2 separate regions of the Homo sapiens genome follow, and region 2 is linked to region 1. The links come from fine-mapping of genetic effects on gene expression. Tissue or cell type: whole blood. Region 1 holds a variant in brackets; the other region holds the start of a gene. All regions are shown on one strand. Distances are between the middles of the regions.

Region 1 (8,255 bases):
ACAAATTATAATGAATGCATAGAAATCCTTATGTAATCCAAGGTCATTAATTTGAAGGAAGACATCAAGAAAATGTGATCTAGAAATAGAGGTTGAGATTGCTCCATTTACAAAATTATTATGCTCTATAATCTTCCCATATGCAAATATTTCATATTCCCTCTTTTGTCCCATGGACATATTTCACAGCAACAACGAATCAAGTGCTGACCTAAATGGGGTATCTGTTAAAACTTAGTATATTGATATCCTTCACCCCACTCCAGGAACGTTCGCTACGCTAGGACTGCATCTTGGGAACAGAATTTTAGAGATGATCATCTCTTACATCAGAAGCAGGATCTAAATGATCCCTGGATGCCCAATTTCCTGACCCTGCTATTGTTGTGGGTGGCAAGATAAGAGGAGTTGCATCACAGATGAAAAAGTAAGGCCGAAGAAGACCAGAGAAGAGTTGGTTGAATGTGTAGATATAAGATCCATCTGTGACATTGTAGAATGAAATTTCACCGGCTTCATAGTCCAAGAAAATCCCAATGCAGCGAGGACTTTCCAGTTGGAGAAGAGGCACTGATGGGGAGGCAAGGACCATGTACTCATTCCCTTTCAGCAGCCACAGGGCCCAGACCCCATTCTCAGGAGATGGCGTGGTTTCCCCCTTTCTTGGCAGTGTGTCTTGACAGACCCCTAAACCCCACTCTGCTCCTTCTCCCACCAGAACCTCCCAGTAATGCCTCCCTGATGAGAAGCTCTGCAAACCCAGGATGCAGGGCCATGTGTCAAATCGCTCAGGGTTGTTGGGGACATCCCTCCATGGTTCTCCATCCTGCACACTGCGCAGGTCGGCGGTCAAGAGCAGACTCGGGTGCGCCGTGGCGGGATCCAGCTTTACATCCACTGCGGAAAGAATGTGGTGGACCAGGTGAAAGGAAAGAAAGGACTGGTAGAAACTTAGGAAACCACTGAAAAGAATAGTCCCACAGTTCCTCACTTTTCTCTCTCTATTAACTCCTAGAGAAAACAAATCAGTATTTCACCTTACAGGTGAAATCTTCTTTATTACTTTATTATTCTTATTCTTTATAACTTTCTGGTATATTCCACTGTTACCTCTGCGTAACCCAGAACTCTTTAACTTTCCCAAAAAAAAACAACTATTGATGACGACAAACCAAGTGAATTATCATTTAGTTTCCTTTCATTTACATCTAAAGCATTTGTGTGTGTGTGTGTGCGTGAGAGAGAGAGAGAGAGACAGAGAGACGGGGTCTTGCTATGTTGCCCAGGCTGGAGTGCAGAGCTATTCATGGGCATAGCCGTGGTACACTACAGCCTCAAACTCCTGGACTCAAGCAATCCTCCCGTGTCTGCCTCCCCAGCAGCTGGGACTACAGGTGCACACCACCATGTCTGGCTTACATCCAAAGCATTTGAGTGCACTTAGGAGGATCTTCTGCATTTAACATAAAATTTATAAACCCCTTAGGAATTTTTTTCTTAAAAATCTATAGAATTTTATTAATATTAAATCCACTACTTCCAAAGTTATATTACTGTGGTAGGCGGAATTCTAAGATGGACCCCATGACCTTCACACCCTGGTGTTAGCCTCATGAGTATGTTACACTATATGACAAGAGAGAGATTATCAAGGTGCGTCTAATCAAATCCCACAAGTCCTGTAAAATCAGAAAGTTTTCTCTGGCTATTGGGTTGGTGGCAGCAGGAAAGGTCAATAAGATGTGGATTTGATATCTCTTTGCTGGCTTTGAAAATGGAAAGGTCACATGAAGAGACAAACGAGTGACCTCTAGAGCTGAGAGTGATCTCCAGAGCTGAGAATAGCCCCCAACCAACAGCCAGCAAGAAAACAGGAATCTCAGTACCGCATTTGCACAGAATTGTATTATGCCAACAACCTGAATAAGGTTGGAGGTAAGGTTCTTCCCCCGACCTACACAGAAGCCTGGCCTGGCCTGGCCAACACCCATATTTGGGCCTTGAGAAAACCTAAGCAGAGGAGCCAGCTGATCCCACTTGGATGTCTGGTCTTCAGAACCATGAGCTACTAAATGGTATGGCTTTAAGCACATAAGCTTGTAGTTATGCGTTATATAACAATAAAAAATACTGATACTCTGAAGTCCCAGTGAGATTGATGAGACATTTGACCCATATACATAATAAATAAATACATCTAGATATGAAACCTCAGTGAAGGGGGGATGTAAAATATTCAGTGCATTTCCTTATTAGCATTGCTTATAAGTAGTAAGTTAATAAATAATATGGTTTGGATGTGTATCGCCTCCCGGTCTCATGTTGAAATGTGATTCCCAATGTTGAAGGTGGGGCCTAGTGGGGGGTGCTGGATCATGGGTGCAGATCCCCCATGAATGACTTAGTGCCATCCCACTGGTGATAAGTGAGTTCTTTATCCGTTCATGCAAGAGCTGGTCGTTTAAGAGGAACCTGGGGCCTCCCCACTTCACTGCTTCCCTCTTGCCATGTGATACGCTGGCTCCTCCTTTGCTTTCCACCATGACTGTAGGTGTCCTGAGGCCTCACCAGAAACAGGTGCCAGCACCATGACTCCTGTACAGCCTACAGAACCATGAGCCAAAATAAAGCATATTTCCTTATATTAATAAATTACCCAGCCTCAGGTATTTCTTTATAGCAATGCAAAATCAGACTAACATGTTAATATAGTTTGATTTTTAATATCAGAACAAATACTGTTTCTACTGCTACTGCTACTGCTACTGCTACTACCACTACCACTATACTTATTTGCCTTTAAACACTTACAGTGAACTACTTTTTTTTTTGAAACGGAGTCTCGCTCTGTTGCCCAGTCTGGAGTGCAGTGGTGCAATCACAGCTCACTGCAGCCTCCACCTCTCAGACTCAAGCCATCCCCTGACCTCAGCCCTCTGAGTAGCTGGGAAGGCACACACCACCATGCCCAGCTAGTTTTCTGTATTTTTTTGTAGAGAAGGGGTTTTGCCATGTTGCCCAGGCTGGTCTCGAACTCCTGGGTTCAAGCAATCCATCCGCCTCAGCCTCCCAAAATGTTGGGATTACAGGCGTGAGCTGCCACGCCCGGTCTAGTGAATTTTTATTGATACCCAACCTGAGTGGTCACGTAACTGCGCATTGCATTATTTTTATTATGTAACCACCCTGAGGGTCACCATTGTCATCCCTACATTACACAAGAGTAGATTCAGAGTCAAAGAGTTTATGTGGTCTTCCCAAACTCTAGAGGTAAATAACAGAGATTGAAAGGTAGGTCTCCATGGATTGTGCATTTAACACAATCTAACAGGTCATGTATTCCCAAGCCATTCCTCTTCCGGCACAGTGGTCTGCTTCATTTCTAACAAAAGAGATCTGTGAAATGGCTTTTGATATGGTCTGTATCCCATTCCTCTCCCTACCCCTTCTCTCCTAAACTCAATTCTTCATCATGATGTGACCATACCCCAACCAAACTGCGCATGTCCATCTTCCCAGGGACCTCCGTGTTGATGAATGGTTACTTGTCAGTTTGTCTTTTTTTTAAGATGGAGTTTTGCTCTTGTTGCCCAGGCTGGAGTTCAATGGCATGATCTTGGCTTACTGCAACCCCCATCTCCCGGGTTCAAGTGATTCTCCTGCCTCAGCCTCCCGAGTAGCTGGGATTACAGGCATGCACCACCACGCCTGGCTAATTTTGTATTTTTAGTAGAGACAAGGTTTCCTCAGGTTGATCAGGCTGGTCTCGAACTCCTGACCTCAGGTGATCTGCCCGCCTCGGCCTCCCAAAGTGCAGGGATTTACAGGCGTGAGCCACCGCGCCCGGCCCAGAGTTCATCTTCAATGATTTTTCTGTATCTCTCAACACTGAGAATCTACTTGTGCTGGAAAATCTCCCTTTTCCAAAGGTAACACTCATCCATGTTTCCCTTCCCTCACTGCTCACTACTCCTTGATCCTCTTTGCTGTTCTCTTCTCCTCCACCACCACCACTGGAGAAACCTATAGTCCCAAGACTTGGACTTCTTCTCTCTCTCTCACCTCACTCCCTATCTACCCGGGTGCTGGCTGGTTCATTGCTTTGATAAAATTCCATTCATATGCTGACTGATTCCCAATGCATGTGCTTAGCTTTGAACTTTACCCTGAAACTCCCTATTGTACATTCATCTGCCCACTTGATAGCAACATTTGAATATTTAGCACTCATCGCAACATCCACATATCCAAAACCCTGTGCCCTTCTTCTGCTTCAACTGTCGCTTTCCTCATCAATATAAGTGGCAATCACATTTTGCCAGTTCGCAAGATCCAAAACCTTGGAATCATTCATGGCTCTTCCTGTTTATAGCACATCATATATAATCCAACAGCAAATCTTAACAGCTCTGCCTTCAGTATATAACAAAAATCTGTCCATCTTGCGGCACCTTCCGTAATAACATCTATTCCAACACATAATCATCTCTCATCAAATTACTGCAAAGACCCTTAACTGCTTTTCCCATGTCAATCTTCTCCTCTCTGTAATTTACTTACAAGAAAGCATATAGAGTGATCCTCATAAAACATTAGTCCAATCAAACTATTTTTCTAGGTACAACTTTCAAC[T/A]ATGTCCTATTTCGCTCAGGGATAAAGTATCATGCTCAGCATGGCCTGCCTATCTAGCCCTTTCTTGGTCTCTCCGACCCTCCTGTCATTTACTCTGCCACAGAGTCCTCACACTGACATCCTCACAGCTCCTGGAACACACCTGCCATCCTCCACGTCAGGCCTTGGCGCTCATTTCTGCTGCCTGAATGCTTTCTTCCAGATCATATATTTGCTGGGTTATCCCCTGCAGGGCGGGGTCTTTCCTGGTCACCTTATTCAAAACTAGAACTTCTCATTACCCTTTGCATACTCTTTTTGATTTTCTTCAATATTCTGTGTCAGCCACTTACAGCCTGTGTATTTTGGTGAAGTACATATCTGCAACACAAAGCTACGGATTGTAGAGTATTTTGTTGTTGTTGTTGAATGATATATTCCAATGTTTAAAAGAATGGGTGAGATAAAATTAATCACACATTTTGAATGATTTCATTCCATAAAAACAAATATGGATATGAGGTTGCTGAGTCTGAGGGTGCCATGACGATTTTAATCAAGTTGGGCATTTAGCATACATTCATCTACCCAGGAGAACGTGGGTACTATGCTGCAGAGATGGGTTTTCTCATTAAGGGACTTTACACTCTTTCCCTCTAAGTAGTGAAGTCACTATTTAGACATAGTTTTCATTACTTGGGATAAATTAGATTTTAAAATGAAATTGTAAACAATACTGAATCTATACTGTTTTAAAGAATAATACAATCAGACTAAACACACTAATTTTTTGTGACACTGCTTATTCCTACATGAAAATAACTGACAATATTTTTGGCTTTATTGACTCACTAATTCAAGCAACTCATCAAATTCTCAGCCAATAAATTAAACCAAACTTCTTGCTAATTGATAACTTTGCAGTGCTTTCATATTGATTACTTTTAGGAGGTGGGGTGCTTTCAAATGTTTCATTTTGTCCTCCAAGCAATTTATTTTTAGCATTTTATAAGCAAGGAAATGTAAATTTACTGGAAGTAACGTTACTCATATCAGCTAATAAGAGATGACCTACAGTTTTAAGCCCATAGTCTAACCAAATGTAGACTCTATGGGTGGCCGTGACTCTGATACTGCTCATGAATATACTAATCCTCGTTCTTCTGGGCGTGGTGGTGCAGGCTCTATGGGTGGCCGTGACTCTGATACGGCTCATGAATATACTAATCCTCGTTCTTCTGGGCGTGGTGGTGCAGGCTCTATGGGTGGCCGTGACTCTGATACGGCTCATGAATATACTAATCCTCGTTCTTCTGGGCGTGGTGGTGCAGGCTCTATGGGTGGCCATGACTCTGATACTGCTCATGAATATACTAATCCTCGTTCTTCTGGGCGTGGTGGTGCAGGCTCTACGGGTGGCCGTGACTCTGATACTGCTCATGAATATACTAATCCTCGTTCTTCTGGGCGTGGTGGTGCAGGCTCTACGGGTGGCCGTGACTCTGATACTGCTCATGAATATACTAATCCTCGTTCTTCTGGGCGTGGTGGTGCAGGCTCTATGGGTGGCCGTGACTCTGATACTGCTCATGAATATACTAATCCTCGTTCTTCTGGGCGTGGTGGTGCAGGCTCTATGGGTGGCCGTGACTCTGATACTGCTCATGAATATACTAATCCTCGTTCTTCTGGGTGTGGTGGTGCAGGCTCTATGGGTGGCCGTGACTCTGATACTGCTCATGAATATACTAATCCTCGTTCTTCTGGGCGTGGTGGTGCAGGCTCTATGGGTGGCCGTGACTCTGATACTGCTCATGAATATACTAATCCTCGTTCTTCTGGGCATGGTGGTGCAGGCTCTATGGGTGGCCGTGACTCTGATACTGCTCATGAATATACCAATCCTAATTTTTCTGGGCATGGTGCACTCTCCCACGGAAGGAGACCAGGGAATTTTACCCTAAAATATGGCACCCTGGTATGCCCATTATTTTAAATTAAAGGCCCTTGGAGACCATCACACACTGTAAGAAGCTTTATTCTAACACTCATTTATCTGCCTGAAGTCCCTGCATTTTAATTAATTTAGCTCATATTGCAGGAAGACAGACAAGTCTATCAATACACCTGGACAGACTTTAGTCACAAACCACTGTCTACTTTTCAACACTTTGTCCCAAGCCACTGTATGCACTCCAAGCCCAATGAATCCTCCAAAAAATCATTTACTATCTCCCTAAAATCATCCACACCTCCCCATCTCCCTTTCCTCCAATAAAGAAAGGTATATAAGCATCTGTATCCCACTGCGTTATTGGGTCATTACTCTCCTGCGATTCCACTGTGCTATGAATGTTAGACTTTTTCTATGCCTTTGTTCCTATTTGTCTTTGGTCAGTTGATTTTCAGCAAACATTCATAGGGAAAGGGGAAAGTTTTCCCTTGCCCCCTACACTGTCTCCTTGATAGTTTGACTTAGCCATGAAATCTCAGGAAGGCCAGATGCTCTAATTCAGCATGGGTACCTTTAAGAGGAGTGCATGAGTCACCATGCCTATGATACTGTGAAGTACGTATTTGGTCTACAGTGCAGGAGGCACCATACCTATGACACTGGGAAGTATATATTTGGTCTACATTCACCATGCCTATGATACTGTGAAGTGTGTATTTGGTCTATATCCTGTTTACTGACATACAGTTCTTAAAATCCTTGAAATTTCCAGAAATACAAGAGTGTCTTTTGTAAGCTAATAAGATGAATTGTGGTTGGTGATTACCCAGAAAGCCTCCCACTGGGTGTGGTTGCCAGGGGAACCAACCATGTGATTAGAGGCTTGAAACTTTCAGTCCTTCACGCCTCACCCCCCCCCACCTCTGAAGAGGGAGAGGGGCTTAAGGGTGGGTTGGTAAACCAATGGCCTATGATCTAATCAATCACGTCTACATAGTGCTTCCATAAAAACCCAAAATAACTGAGTTCATTGGCCAGGCACAGTGGCTCACGCCTGTCATCTCAGCACTTTAGGAGGCCGAGGCAGGCAGATCATTTGAGGTCAGGAGTTCGAGACCAGCCTGGCTAACATGGTGAGACCCCGTCTCTACTAAAAATATAAAAATTAGCCAGGCATGGTGGCATGTGCCTGTAATCCCAGCTACTCGGGAGGCTGAGGCAGGAGAATCGCTCGAACATGGGAGGTGGAGGTTGCAGTGAGCTGAGATGGCGCCACTGCACTCCAGCCTGGGCGACAGAGTAAGACTTCATCACACACACAAAAAAAAGAACTGAGTCCTGAGGACTTCCAGATCACTGAACACACGGAGGTTCCAAAGGTAGCAGGCCTAGAAAGGGCGTGGAAGCTCCGTACCCCTTCTCACAAACCTCGCCCTAAGAATCTCTTCCATCTGTTCATCTCTAGCCTCTGTAACGCCCTTATAATAAATGAGTAAATATGTGTCCCTAAGTTTTGTCAGCTGTTTCAGGAAATTAAGTGAACTCAAGAAGAGGGTTGTGGGAACCCCAGTTTACAGTCAGTTGGTCAGAATCACAGACCACAACCTGTGCTTGTGACCAGCATCTGAAGTGGGGTCAGTCTTGTGGGACAAAGCCCTCAACCCGGGGAACCTGGTGCTATCTCCAGATA
Region 2 (8,255 bases), 22 kb before region 1:
GCACACGTGCCCATGCAAGTGTGACGGATTTGATCCTGGGGCCATGTTTAGAAAATGGTTCCCAGAGCTAGGAGGATTTAAAACTCTTATAATAAGAGTTATAATAGTAATAGGAACCTACTTACTGCTCCTTTGTTTGCTACCTGTACTTCTTCAAATGATAAAAAGCTTCATCACTACCTTAGTTCACCAAAAGCTTCAGCACAAGTGTACTATATGAATCACTATTGATCTGTCTTGCCAGAAGACATGGGTAGTAAAAATGAAAGTGAGAACTCCCACTATTGAGTGAGACTCTCAAAGGGGGGAATAAGGGAGTAGACCACCCCTCATATTGTCTTATGCCCAATTTCTGCCTCCAAAGAAAAAAAAAGTAAAAACTAAAAGGCAAATATCAAATCCACAAGCAGACAGCCCAGCACCACACCCTGGGCCTGGTAGTTAAAGATTGACCCCTGACATAATCGGTTATGTTATCTATAGATTACAGACATTGTATAGAAAAGCACTGTGAAAATCCCTGTCCTGTTTTGTTCCGATCTAATTACCAGCCCCCAGTCACGTACCCCCTACTTGCTCAATCGATCACGACCCTCTCACGCGCACCCCCTTAGAGTTGTGAGCCCTTAAAAGGGACGGGAATTGCTCACTTGGGGAGCTCGGCTCTTGAGACAGGAGTCTTGCCGATGCCCCTGGTCGAATAAACCCCTTCCTTCTCTAACTCGGTGTCTGAGGAGTTTTGTCTGCGGCTCTTCCTACTACACATCCACATCAGTACTTCTTACAAACAGCATCCTTGAATAGTCAGAGGGGGTGCTCTGGAAGCACAGGAATCCCCCTCTCTGGGGCTCTGGTTTGTTTACACTTACACAATGCCCTGGGGCTGGTGACTTTAGATGTGAGGTGTGGAGGTGAGGAGGATACAAAAGAGCGCAGAAATACACTTGTGGAGGAGGAGGGAGCCGAGCACAGGAGCAACGGCAGAGGAATGAGGACCACCCCTCAGCTGGCCTTTCACACCACTCCCTCTCACCTTGTGTTCGCCCTTGGTCTATGAACACTCTCCCAACTTTTTCCAGAATGTGTCCACCCTCCAAATGCCCGGAACAAGAGCAGGGGGTGATATACTTCCTGGGTTCTTAAAATGTAGTCCGAGTCCCCAAAGTAGGGACATCACCTGGGAGGTTTGCAGAGTCGCAGAAACTCAGACCCCTCTTATCACCAGCTGAATTGGAATTGCATTGGAACAAGACCTCAGATAACTGGAGGGCACGTTAGTGGGACACATTGAGGACTGCAATGTGTAAGGAACAGTAGCCAGTCATGCCCCTTAGCCCCAAAGGGTCTTTGACATTGTGTGCCAAATGCTTAAGGATTTTTGCTCTTTGAAATTTCATGATGCAATAGAAACCATATGAATCGGGAGTCTGACAGAACTTGGAAAAAACCCTGGTTCAGTTCCCCTCGAGCAAAAGATTTAACCTTCAGATCTCAAGGACCAGGGAGATAAAATGGGAATAATGATAATCATGCTGACCTCATACAAATACTGAGGTTGCATGACTTAGGAGCGTCTGGTACACAGAAGGGACTAAACCAATGTCAGGTTCTTCTTACTAATAATGAAAAAAACATGCCTGAGAAAGAATGATGCTTTAAGATTTAAACAACCCATGCATCATAACTTACAGGTTCACTTCTTGGTTTATGCAGAATCTTACACCAGATAAAGGGTAAAACAAACTCTACGATTTCATGAAAAGGTTTGGGTAGGAATTGGGAATATAGAAAATATAAAACTGTGCTGCATTCCATGATTTGATGGCCCTAAACAGAGAGGCACTTGGACCACGTGGAGAACAGTGATGCATTTGGGGTCATTCTGACTGAAACATGTCAGGTGTGTTAGACTTTAAAGCAAACAACAACAAACAAAGCAAAGCTCTGATTGAGAAGAGTTATTTCCTCTTAGCACTCTGGTATAAGTAGGTGGAAACTCATCTTTACAACTGTTTGTCTCACTTCATTCTTTGCAGCTGCTTTACAGATCATGATGGGTTTTGGGGATGATTTGTGTTATATAGTTCACACATAAATCACATAATGTTGGCCAGTCGCAGTGACTCACACTTGTAATCCCAGAACTTTTAGGAGGCCATGGCAGGGGGATCACATGAGGCCAGGAGTTTGGGACCAGCCTGGTCAACACAGCAAGACCCCGTCTCCATAGAAGACAGAAAAGCCACAAGCCACAATTCCCACTGCCAGTGATGCACACCTGTAGTCCCAGTTACTTGGAAGGCTGAGGTGGGGGAGGATCGCTTAAGCCCAATAGTCGAAGGAGCTATGGTGGCACCACTGCACTCTACCCTAGGTGACAGAGTGAGACCCCGTCTCAATTTTAAGAGCAACAACAAAAACACATAATGTCAGAACTGAAACAGCCTCACAAAAGTCCAGAAAAAGGCAAGTTGGGAGTCGTGGGCTAATATCAGCTGGAATTCAGCCGTTCCAGATGCTGCCAGTGGCCCTGGATGGAAGTGAAGTCAGGTGGAGATGCCTTTACTCCTTTCCTAGCTCTCTCTTCCCCAGAAGCAACCTTCCCAGTGCCCCCTTCACCTCTCTGTTTCTGAGGGTGTAGATGAGAGGATTGAGGAGGGGGGTGACAATGTTGTAGAAGAGCATGAGGAACATGCCCTGGTCCTGGGAAGAACTGGCTCCTGGCTGCATGTACATGTAGATGATGTTTCCATAGAAAAGGGAGACCACAGTGAGATGGGAGCCGCAGGTGCCGAAGGCCTTCTGCCTTCCTGATGCTGACCGAATTTGTAACACAGCCCTCACAATGTAGCTGTAAGAGAGCAGGATAAACACCAAGGGGGACAGCACAACACCCACCGCCAGGACAAAGACGGTGCCTTCGATGGCCACAGTGCTGACGCAGGCCATCCGGATCAGGGCGGGCATCTCACGCAGGAAGTGGTCCACCTCGTGGTGCCCACAGCGGGGTAAGCGCAGGGTCACAGGAGACATGGCCAAGGAGTTGGCCACCCCACAGCCCCAGGTCACTGACACCAAGCCCCGGCAGAGCCTGGGGTTCATGATCACCATGTAGTGCAGGGGCTTGCAGATAGCCACACACCGGTCATAGGCCATGACAGCCAGAAGCAGGCACTCCACACCACCCAGACCCAGGAACAGGAAGAGCTGGATGGCACAGCCCATGTAGCTGATGGTCTTGTCACATCCATTAAGGTTGTAGAGCAGCTGGGGGATGGAGCTGGTGGTGAAACTGAGGTCCAGGAAGGAAAGGTGGGCGAGGAAGAAGTACATGGGGGTGTGGAGGTGGGGGTCCAGCCGGGACACCAGGATGATGGTGGTGTTGCCTACGAGGGTCAGGAGGTACGCGATCAGGATGACCACAAAGAGGATCCTCTCCAGATGGGGTCGGTCAGAGAATCCCAGTAGGATGAAATGGGTTTGGGTGCTGCCATTGGTTCCATCCATCTCTACTGCTGCTGAACAGAAATATCAATCCTAATAATAATAATAACAGCTGATATTAAGGGAGAACTTACTAGAAGCTAAGCATTCTTCTATGCTTTTTATATTTATTTTATTCATTCAACCCCAACAGTTATATGGAGTTGCACTATTATTATTAGCTCCCAACTTATAGAAAAGGAAACTGAAACACATGTGTGTTGAGCAAACTGTGATATGTAGGAAGACACAGAGCTGATTCTGAACCCCGGCAATGTAGCTGAGAGTGTGCAATCTAAACCACCAGTAGCACTGCCTCCAAATCCAGTGAAGTGAAGGCAAATCCTGCTGTGGCCAAACCACGAATTTTTCTAGAGACTCCAGTCCCTAGGCTCCTGCCAAAAACCTCAAGGACTCAAAATGGAGCCTCAAAATAATCCATCAATAGTATTTAGGAAATACTCTTTACACACAGAGTACTTTATCTATTACTGGTCTCAAAGACACACCTCATTCATTGGGTTACCATTACTGAGGTAATTTTTAAATTACCTCAGAATTTAATTTAATTTAATTTTAAAATTACCTCAGTAGATAAATAATGTAAGAGACAGGCAAAATACACATAAAATCTCTTTTTTTCTCTCTGTCTTTTAAATGGGCCTGGTATTGAACAAATAGAGTGTATGGGTTTTTCTTCCAAAGTACTATATACTGCTTGAGAGGATAAAAGAGATTGAAAAAACTTTGTAACAGATATTACAACTGTAATGCAAAATTCACGCATATGTACAGAAACCTCTATCACGTTCCAACTCTAATACCACATCACATTCAAAGCAAAGCATATTTGATAAGACAAACCACAAGTCTTACAGATGGATATAGGGAGACTTGGTCCATCCTGGTGTTTGGGTGATGGATGCATTAAAAGCCAAGACTTCGCCACTGTGCAATACATGCAGCTAAAAAGCAGTACCCCCAAATTAATATAAATAGATATAAGCATGTATGTGCAGGTAAAAAGCAGTACTCCCAAATTAATATAAATAGATATAAGTATGTATGTGCAGGTAAAAAGCAGTACTCCCAAATTAATATAAATAGATATAAGTATGTATGTGCAGGTAAAAAGCAGTACTCCCAAATTAATATAAATAGATATAAGCATGTATGTGCAGGTAAAAAGCAGTACTCGCAAATTAATATAAATCCATACGTGGAGGTAACAAAACAGTACTCCCAAACTAAGACAAATAAAAATAAATACATGCGAAGATGGCCGAATAGGAACAGCTCCGGTCTACAGCTCCCAGCGTGAGCGACGCAGAAGACAGGTGATTTCTGCATTTCCATCTGAGGTACCGGGTTCATCTCACTAGGGAGTGCCAGACAGTGGGCGCAGGCCAGTGGGTGCGCGCACCGTGCACAAGCCGAAGCAGGGCGAGGCATTGCCTCACCTGGGAAGCGCAAGGGGTCAGGGAGTTCCCTTTCCCAGTCAAAGAAAGGGGTGACGGACGCACCTGGAAAATCAGGTCACTCCCACCCGAATATTGCGCTTTTCAGACCGGCTTAAAAAACGGCGCACCACGAGACTATATCCCACACCTGGCTCGGAGGGTCCTACGCCCATGCAATCTCGCTGATTGCTAGCACAGCAGTCTGAGATCAAACTGCAAGGCAGCAGCGAGGCTGGGGGAGGGGCGCCCGCCATTGCCCAGGCTTGCTTAGGTAAACAAAGCAGCCTGGAAGCTCGAACTGGGTGGAGCCCACCACAGCTCAAGGAGGCCTGCCTGCCTCTGTAGGCTCCACCTCTGGGGGCAGGGCACAGACAAACAAAAAGACAGCAGTAACCTCTGCAGACTTAAATGTCCCTGTCTGACAGCTTTGAAGAGAGCAGTGGTTCTCCCAGCATGCAGCTGGAGATCTGAGAACGGGCAGACTGCCTCCTCAAGTGGGTCCCTGACCCCTGACCCCCGAGCAGCCTAACTGGGAGGCACCCCCCAGCAGGGGCACACTGACACCTCACACGGCAGGGTATTCCAACAGACCTGCAGCTGAGGGTCCTGTCTGTTAGAAGGAAAACTAACAAACAGAAAGGACATCCACACCAAAAACCCATCTGTACATCACCATCATCAAAGACCAAAAGTAGATAAAACCACAAAGATGGGGAAAAAACAGAACAGAAAAACTGGAAACTCTAAAACGCAGAGCGCCTCTCCTCCTCCAAAGGAACGCAGTTCCTCACCAGCAACAGAACAAAGCTGGATGGAGATTGATTTTGACGAGCTGAGAGAAGAAGGCTTCAGACGATCAAATTACTCTGAGCTACGGGAGGACATTCAAACCAAAGGCAAAGAAGTTGAAAACTTTGAAAAAAATTTAGAAGAATGTATAACTAGAATAACCAATACAGAGAAGTGCTTAAAGGAGCTGAAGGAGCTGAAAACCAAGGCTCGAGAACTACATGAAGAATGCAGAAGCCTCAGGTGCCGATGCGATCAACTGGAAGAAAGGGTATCAGCAATGGAAGATGAAATAAATGAAATGAAGCGAGAAGGGAAGTTTAGAGAAAAAAGAATAAAAAGAAATGAGCAAAGCCTCCAAGAAATATGGGACTATGTGAAAAGACCAAATCTACGTCTGATTGGTGTACCTGAAAGTGATGCGGAGAATGGAATCAAGTTGGAAAACAGTCTGCAGGATATTATCCAGGAGAACTTCCCCAATATAGCAAGGCAGGCCAACGTTCAGATTCAGGAAATACAGAGAACGCCACAAAGATACTCCTTGAGAAGAGCAACTCCAAGACACATAATTGTCAGATTCACCAAAGTTGAAATGAAGGAAAAAATGTTAAGGGCAGCCAGAGAGAAAGGTCGGGTTACCCTCAAAGGGAAGCCCATCAGACTAACAGCGGATCTCTTGGCAGAAACCCTACAAGCCAGAAGAGAGTGGGGGCCAATATTCAACATTCTTAAAGAAAAGAATTTTCAACCCAGAATTTCATATCCAGCCAAACTAAGCTTCATAAGTGAAGGAGAAATAAAATACTTTACAGACAAGCAAACGCTGAGAGATTTTGTCACCACCAGGCCTGCCCCAAAAGAGCTCCTGAAGGAAGTGCTAAACATGGAAAGGAACAACCGGTACCAGCCGCTGCAAAATCATGCCAAAATGTAAAGACCATTGAGACTAGGAAGAAACTGCATCAACTAACGAGCAAAATCACCAGCTAACATCATAATGACAGGATCAAATTCACACATTACAATATTAACCTTAAATGTAAATGGACTAAATTCTCCAATTAAAAGACACAGACTGGCAAGTTGGATAAAAAGTCAAGACCCATCAGTGTGCTGTATTCAGGAAACCCATCTCACGTGCAGAGACACACATAGGCTCAAAATAAAAGGATGGAGGAAGATCTACCAAGCAAATGGAAAACAAAAAAAGGCAGGGGTTGCAATCCTAGTCTCTGATAAAACAGACTTTAAACCAACAAAGATCAAAAGAGACAAAGAAGGCCATTACATAATGGTAAAGGATCAATTCAACAAGAGGAGCTAACTATCCTAAATATATATGCACCCAATACAGGAGCACCCAGATTCATAAAGCAAGTCCTGAGTGACCTACAAAGAGACTTAGACTCCCACACATTAATAATGGGAGACTTTAACACCCTACTGTCAACATTAGACAGATCAACGAGACAGAAAGTCAACAAGGATACCCAGGAATTGAACACAGCTCTGCACCAAGCGGACCTAATAGACATCTACAGAACTCTCCACCCCAAATCAACAGAATATACATTTTTTTCAGCACCACACCACACCTATTCCAAAATTGACCACATAGTTGGAAGTAAAGCTCTCCTCAGCAAATGTAAAAGAACAGAAATTGTAACAAACTATCTCTCAGACCACAGTGCAATCAAACTAGAACTCAGGATTAAGAATCTCACTCAAAGCCGCTCAACTACATGGAAACTGAACAACCTGCTCCTGAATGACTACTGGGTACATAACAAAAAGAAGGCAGAAATAAAGATGTTCTTTGAAACCAACAAGAACAATGACACAACATACCAGAATCTCTGGGACGCATTCAAAGCAGTGTGTAGAGGGAAATTTATAGCACTAAATGCCCACAAGAGAAAGCAGGAAAGATCCAAAATTGACACCCTAACATCACAATTAAAAGAACTAGAAAAGCAACAGCAAACACATTCAAAAGCTAGCAGAAGGCAAGAAATAACTAAAATCAGAGCAGAACTGAAGGAAATACAGACACAAAAAACCCTTCAAAAAATCAATGAATCCAGGAGCTGGTTTTTTGAAAGGATCAACAAAATTGATAGACCGCTAGCAAGACTAATAAAGAAAAAAAGAGAGAAGAATCAAATAGACACAATAAAAAATGATAAATGGGATATCACCACCGATCCCACAGAAATACAAACTACCATCAGAGAATACTACAAACACCTCTACGCAAATAAACTAGAAAATCTAGAAGAAATGGATAAATTCCTCGACACATACACTCTCCCAAGACTAAACCAGGAAGAAGTTGAATCTCTGAATAGACCAATAACAGGAGCTGAAATTGTGGCAATAATCAATAGTTTACCAACCAAAAAGAGTCCAGGACCAGATGGATTCACAGCTGAATTCTACCAGAGGTACAAGGAGGAACTGGTACCATTCCTTCTGAAACTAATCCAATCAATAGAAAAAGAGGGAATCCTCCCTAACTCA

Evidence for each region. PIP is the estimated chance that this variant, and not a neighbour inherited with it, causes the effect.
Region 2: it holds the start of OR2W3, and the variant in region 1 is fine-mapped to the expression of OR2W3 in whole blood (INTERVAL, PIP above 0.99).

Annotation. Positions count from the first base shown.
Region 1 is chr1:247,868,542-247,876,796 of GRCh38, reverse strand. TRIM58 (tripartite motif containing 58) reads right to left here. Exons shown (of 6, transcript NM_015431.4): 6 at 1-897. The coding sequence ends at 308. Among named protein-coding and RNA genes, the nearest start is that of TRIM58, 15 kb to the right of the region's middle. The variant T/A (reference allele first, on the strand shown) is at 4,633.
Region 2 is chr1:247,890,839-247,899,093 of GRCh38, reverse strand. It overlaps OR2W3 (olfactory receptor family 2 subfamily W member 3), which reads right to left and starts at 3,507. Exons shown (of 1, transcript NM_001001957.2): 1 at 2,563-3,507. The coding sequence starts at 3,507. The coding sequence ends at 2,563.